Regions from separate parts of the Homo sapiens genome. Here region 2 is linked to region 1. The links come from fine-mapping of genetic effects on gene expression. Tissue or cell type: whole blood. Region 1 holds a variant in brackets; the other region holds the start of a gene. Each region is shown on its reference strand, or each on the opposite one. Region 1 has its middle 6.3 kb from the start of TBX21. Region 2 holds the start of CXCR3 (C-X-C motif chemokine receptor 3).

What was found. PIP is the estimated chance that this variant, and not a neighbour inherited with it, causes the effect.
Region 2: CXCR3 starts here. The variant in region 1 is the best candidate, but not a certain one, in a credible set for the expression of CXCR3 in whole blood (TOPMed, PIP 0.68).

The regions. Positions count from the first base shown.
Region 1 is chr17:47,725,471-47,728,371 of GRCh38, reverse strand. No RefSeq gene overlaps it. Among named protein-coding and RNA genes, the nearest start is that of TBX21, 6.3 kb to the left of the region's middle. The variant G/A (reference allele first, on the strand shown) is at 1,244.
Region 2 is chrX:71,617,080-71,619,980 of GRCh38, reverse strand. It overlaps CXCR3 (C-X-C motif chemokine receptor 3), which reads left to right and starts at 1,470. Exons shown (of 2, transcript NM_001504.2): 1 at 1,470-1,543; 2 at 2,522-2,901. The coding sequence starts at 1,532.

The DNA of each region.
Region 1 (2,901 bases):
CACCTGCCCTTTCCTCCCTCTGGCTTAGTGGCTCATCCACAAAGTGTCCTTCAGGTCCATCCTCAGCCTCCACTCAGGGCCTGGGGCCAAAAGAGAGCCCCTCTGTTCATAAGACTCACATATTAGAAAGGGACAGGCTTCCCCTCCTGATACCCATATACCATTCCCTGGGTACCTGAGCGCTGGGATAAGCCAGGCCCTTGGAGATCTGGGATCACAAAGATAAATTAGGGTCAGTCCCTGCCCCCAAAGAGCTCCTAGCAAAGTGACCCCCTCAGCCCTCTTGCTCCTGGGGTGTAGACTCACAACACACCACGTGCACACACGCCATCATCCACGCATGTGCACACACACCCCATGCAGAGCTATGCTAGGGAAATCTCTGCGATCCAGTCCCTGCAGCCCCACCGCCTGCTCTTGCCCCACATCCAGCATCCCAGAGCTCCTTCAGCATCTGACTCTGCCCACCCCGCGTGCCCTGAATCCCCTCCCCCTCTGGGCCCAGACTGCCAGTCCTTCAGAGGGCATGGCCGGAACCATCAGATTAACAGCCAGAGAGGGGGGAAGGGGAGGGACAAGCACCTGTAGAACCCCCCCGCCCCGTGACAGCTGCAGGAGTTCCGAGTCCCCAGCACCCAGCACCAGGTGGTCAGTGTGAACACAGAACAGAGGGCTCCTCCCAAGGTCAAGGGCTCCAGGCTCTCATCTGCAGGCTGGGTCACCCTTCCCCACACACCCCCCACCAAGCCTGAGCGGCCCTTACCCCTGGGCTCCAGGCCAGGCCTGGGTGCCTTTCAGTCCTCCTTCTCCGTGGCATCTTATTTTGAATCATCTATCCTCTCTCTATCTCTAGCTGCTCTCACCCCTGCCAGCATTTCACATAAGACCCACACCCTCCATGCACACCCACGCATGCAGTAGGCCGCCCCCGCTGCACTCCCAGGCTAGGGCTCCTGCGCCCTCCTGAAGGGATATTCAGACATCAGGTACTTGGGTAACTCTGTTATCAGGAGGGCATGCCACAGTATGGATGGGCAAGCCCAAGCTTCAGGAGGCACTGGGGAGAGGCTGTGCCCCCACCCTTCCTGCCTCTCAGCAGACAGGCCCTTAATCTCAGGCAGGAAGCAGGGTCTGGTTACCAGGAGTTGGGCTGGGGAGGCGGGAAATATCCAGGGCTTTGGGTAAAAGGAGCTGGGAGAGGAGGGAAGAAAAAGAAGAGCCAAGGAAAAGGGACTTGGAGGGA[G/A]GGCACAGGCTGAGGGGTTAACCCCCACGCTGCCAAGCTCCTCTCTGCTTCCCATCTTGCCATCTTGGCATGACTTCCTGGCACAGTCAGGCTCTGCCAGGCCAGGCCTCGCTGTCCTTCAGAGGGCCACCCACCCCCTGGGGCCTCCTCTCTCCCCAAGGTTCTCTCTGGCTTCCTGGGATCTGTGGGCAGCCCTGTGTGCCCATGTCTCTCAGGGCTCCTGAGTGTCTGGGTTCCTCTGGTCTGATTCGGCCCCTCTCTGGGTCCCTGTGTTTTTGCCTGCGTCTTGTGTATCCTCTTTACGTCCACTCCTATCCCTGGGACCTGTGAGAGGTCTGCACGCTGGTCCTGAGTGTAGGTTCTGTGCCTCTGTCTGCGTCTCTGTGTCTGTCTGTTACCTGTGGGCCTCGGAACTTGCCTTGTCTCTGTAGCGTGTTTGTGTCTGTCTCTGCATCTTCATGTCACTGTCCGTGTCTCCAGGGCTATCCAGCGCTCCATGTATCTCCTGCATGTCTATCTGTCCATCTGGGACTAGGCCTCATCTGTGAGTTGGCTCTGGCCTTCCTGTGTCTGGCCTAGAGCTTTTTGCCTTGTCCACCTGGTTAATGTCTCAGGGTGCGGGTGAGACAGAGCAGACTTACGGACTTGGTTAGGGATGAATGAGAGAGGAAGAGGGAAAAGGGCATGGGTGGTATTGGGGGAAAGAGTCCCATTCCTAAATAGTGCCTGAAGCAAGCTGCCCAGCCCTGAAATGCCAGGGTGAAGCTCTGTGTGGCCAGGGGGCAAGGGAGAGAGGGCATGGCAGGGAACACACCTGCTCAGGGCTGGCAGCGGAGTTGCACAGAAACAGAAACAGACCTAGTTGGTATGTGGGGGTGGGCCCTCTACATACCAGAAACAGGACCCAGAAACAGGTGGAAAGACAAACATGGAACTCTAGGTTCTGATTCTGGCTCCGCCACTGGCGTAGATCACCTTGGGCTAGGCCCTTTCCCTCTGTGTGTCGCAGTTTTCTGCTCTGTAAAATGAGACAGCAAGGACCATCCCCTAGAATTCTGTTAGAGAGCCAGAGTGACAGAAGACATCCCTAAACCCAGGACAGAAGACTAGTTGCCCCTTTCTGTCCCTTAAGGAGGTATCCCAAAGACCCTTATAGTACCAACAGCCTCTGTGTCTGCGATTCAGCACCACTAGGGGCAGGACAGAGGGAAGAATGGAGGTTAGACAGCAGGAAGGACTTCCTGCCAAGCAGTGGGAGGGTGAGGAGGCCCCAGCTTCTCCCAGCAGTCCTCCAGGGCCCCTCTGTCAGGGCTAGGGGTGGAGGGGCAGGAGTGGGGGGCGTTCAGCAGCTGGGTAATTAGCCATCGCTCTCAGGCCCTGCGGGGAGGGGCTGGCTGGACTGAGAAACCAACGCAAAGTGACAGGGGTGGTTTTGACACGCGGTGGAGCTGACGGGCCCAGGGGGCTGGGGGTTTGGTTTGGGGGGGAAAAATCCCATCAAATGATTAAAAAATAGGTCAGAGGGAAGAAGCCACAGCCGGCACTGGGTCCGTGGTGAGAACGCCATGTCGCTTCCCCAGGGCTGTGGGCCAGAATGGGGTGGGGGAGCTGAGGAGTGTTTGCAGTGGGCGGGTGAGCTGGGAGTGGGGGCAAGAAGG
Region 2 (2,901 bases), not on the chromosome of region 1:
CTGGTAATGAGAAGAGGGCGACAGGGAGGGGAGAAGAGGGCAAAGGGGAGAGCTGAGGGCAGGTGGGGAGAGGAATTGTTCACCATTCTCTGCCATAAAGTGACTGATGTGCTGTACCAAGGCTGCCTTACAGCTTTTCCTTAAGATCAAGAAGTTCCTATGGCCTCCTCCCCAACCCCATCCTCCTTCTTGCCCGAGAAGCAACTGCTTTTATGAATTTGTGGTATCTCCTGTCCCTGTTTTAAACCTCGAGAACCAACAGTGTTATCCAAAACAACATGGTATTGATTTTGTGGTGGTTTTTAGAGTTTATGTAAGTGGCATCAAACTATACATGGCATTCTGTAACTTGCTTCTTCTACCATGTGATCGTTGGCTTTTCTAGATGCATCCATGTTCAAATGTGTAGCTTTAGTTCATTTGTTTTTAACTGCATGAATATATCATAGCTTATTCACTTAAAAGAAACTGAAGACAGTGTTCATGAGTAGGAAAAGGAGAATCAGACAGCCGTGGGATCAATCCTCACGCCCACCTTTAATTGCCGTGTCTGGCGAAGGCCTGTCCCCTTTCTGAATCATCCATGCAGATAACCCCGCACGTCACAAGTGAGTTGTGTGGTTGAAATAAGGCAGTGTCGGAGAAAGCACCTAAAGCAATGTCTATCACATAGCAAGTTCATTACTGGTAGTTCCCTTTCTTTTTCCCCACTGATTAGCAGGGAGAGGTGGTGGTAAAAAGCTAGATTTAGTGTAACGGCTTTTTAAAAAAATATTTTAATTCCCTTTTTAAGAGACAGGGCCTCACTCTGTCACCAGGCTGGAGTGCAGTGGTACAATTATATCTCAAGGCAGACTTGAACTCCCGGGCTCAAGCAATCCTCCTGTCTCAGGCTTCCAAGTAGTTAGGACTACAGGCACATGCCACCATGCCCGGCTGGCTTTTTTTATTTTTGGTAGAGATGGAGCCTCGCTATGCTGCCCAGGCTGGTCTCAAACTCTTGGCCTTAAGTGATCCTCTTGCCTCAGCCTCCCCAGTAGCTGGGATTACAGGAATGAGCCACTGCACCTAGCTGAAATTTTTAAGAAGGTGGATCTCCTCTGCAGACTTATTTCTCTACCCAGCCTTTACAATCATGCAAAGATCAACTCAAGGCCAGGACAGATGAGTTCCAATCTATGGAGCACTGACCCTACCAGTGCAGGCAGTAGGGTTGCCCTTCACTTCTCAGCTGCATTGCTTCCTCTTCAGACCTCTCTTCTCAAAGGACCTGCCCCCAGCCAGTCATCCTCTGCCCAGCTTTTCTGGTCCCAAGCTTGTAGCCAGCTCCTCCAGAGAGGTTTCACCCAGTCACGGAAACTCTGTGGCCTGAGGTTTAGGGAGGTCTGGTAGAGGTAACTCCCTGGAAGAGGCTGCTGCTGAGAACTGCCTGAAACTCCCACTTCCTCTGTGACTGCAGGTTTCCAACCACAAGCACCAAAGCAGAGGGGCAGGCAGCACACCACCCAGCAGCCAGAGCACCAGCCCAGCCATGGTCCTTGAGGTAAGTGCTGCTGCCCAGCCAGGCCAGGCCAGAATTCGAAGTGGAAAACCCGGGGCATCAGGGGAATGCCAGGGCTGGCCCACAGCCCAGGGTCACCACAGGGTTGGGTGAGTAGCTGGAGGCCGCATGGGTTGTGGCAGAAACAGCACTGGGGAATTGGGAACCCAGCTTGGCCACTGACCCTGGGTGCCTCTCCTCTCCTCTCTGGCTTCGGTGTCTCGTCTGCAAAATGGGGGGGGCGGGGGGCAAGTAGACTCGAAGGCTCCCTTCAGGAGACTTGGAACTTTGACTCTTGGCGTGCTGGACTAAATTGGTACTGGGGAGACCTGCAGGTCCATAGTGCTGGGGGTGAGGGGATAAAGAAGATTCCTTCTCAAGCTAAGTGGGGGATCCCCTTGTGGGCAGCTAAATGGCCGTGCAAGCCTCAGTGTAGGGAGGGGGAAGGACTGGGCAGACTGCATGCATTTGGGGGGCGTGGTGACTTGTAGAGAGGCCACACGGTGGGGGGGGGCGCAGGAAGTTGGGGTCCCCGGACAAGGGCCAAGGAGGGAAGAGGAGGGTTAGTGACTGGAAAAGGGGATTGTGGAGAGGCGCTGGGGAGGAAGGTGGTTGAACTATGTGTTGGGGGTGGGGCACTGAGGACGCAAGGCAAGCCTGAAGGGAGAGCAGGGAGAGAGAGGACAGTGGGCAGAGAGGGCTCTGGGCACTGGAGGGACGCTCTTCTTCCTGCCCAGGGGTCCCTGGGCCGATGGGATCACGCAGAAGAATGCGAGAGAAGCAGCCTTTGAGAAGGGAAGTCACTATCCCAGAGCCCAGGCTGAGCGGATGGAGTTGAGGAAGTACGGCCCTGGAAGACTGGCGGGGACAGTTATAGGAGGAGCTGCTCAGAGTAAATCACAGACTAAATCAGACTCAATCACAAAAGAGTTCCTGCCAGGCCTTTACACAGCCCCTTCCTCCCCGTTCCCGCCCTCACAGGTGAGTGACCACCAAGTGCTAAATGACGCCGAGGTTGCCGCCCTCCTGGAGAACTTCAGCTCTTCCTATGACTATGGAGAAAACGAGAGTGACTCGTGCTGTACCTCCCCGCCCTGCCCACAGGACTTCAGCCTGAACTTCGACCGGGCCTTCCTGCCAGCCCTCTACAGCCTCCTCTTTCTGCTGGGGCTGCTGGGCAACGGCGCGGTGGCAGCCGTGCTGCTGAGCCGGCGGACAGCCCTGAGCAGCACCGACACCTTCCTGCTCCACCTAGCTGTAGCAGACACGCTGCTGGTGCTGACACTGCCGCTCTGGGCAGTGGACGCTGCCGTCCAGTGGGTCTTTGGCTCTGGCCTCTGCAAAGTGGCAGGTGCCCTCTT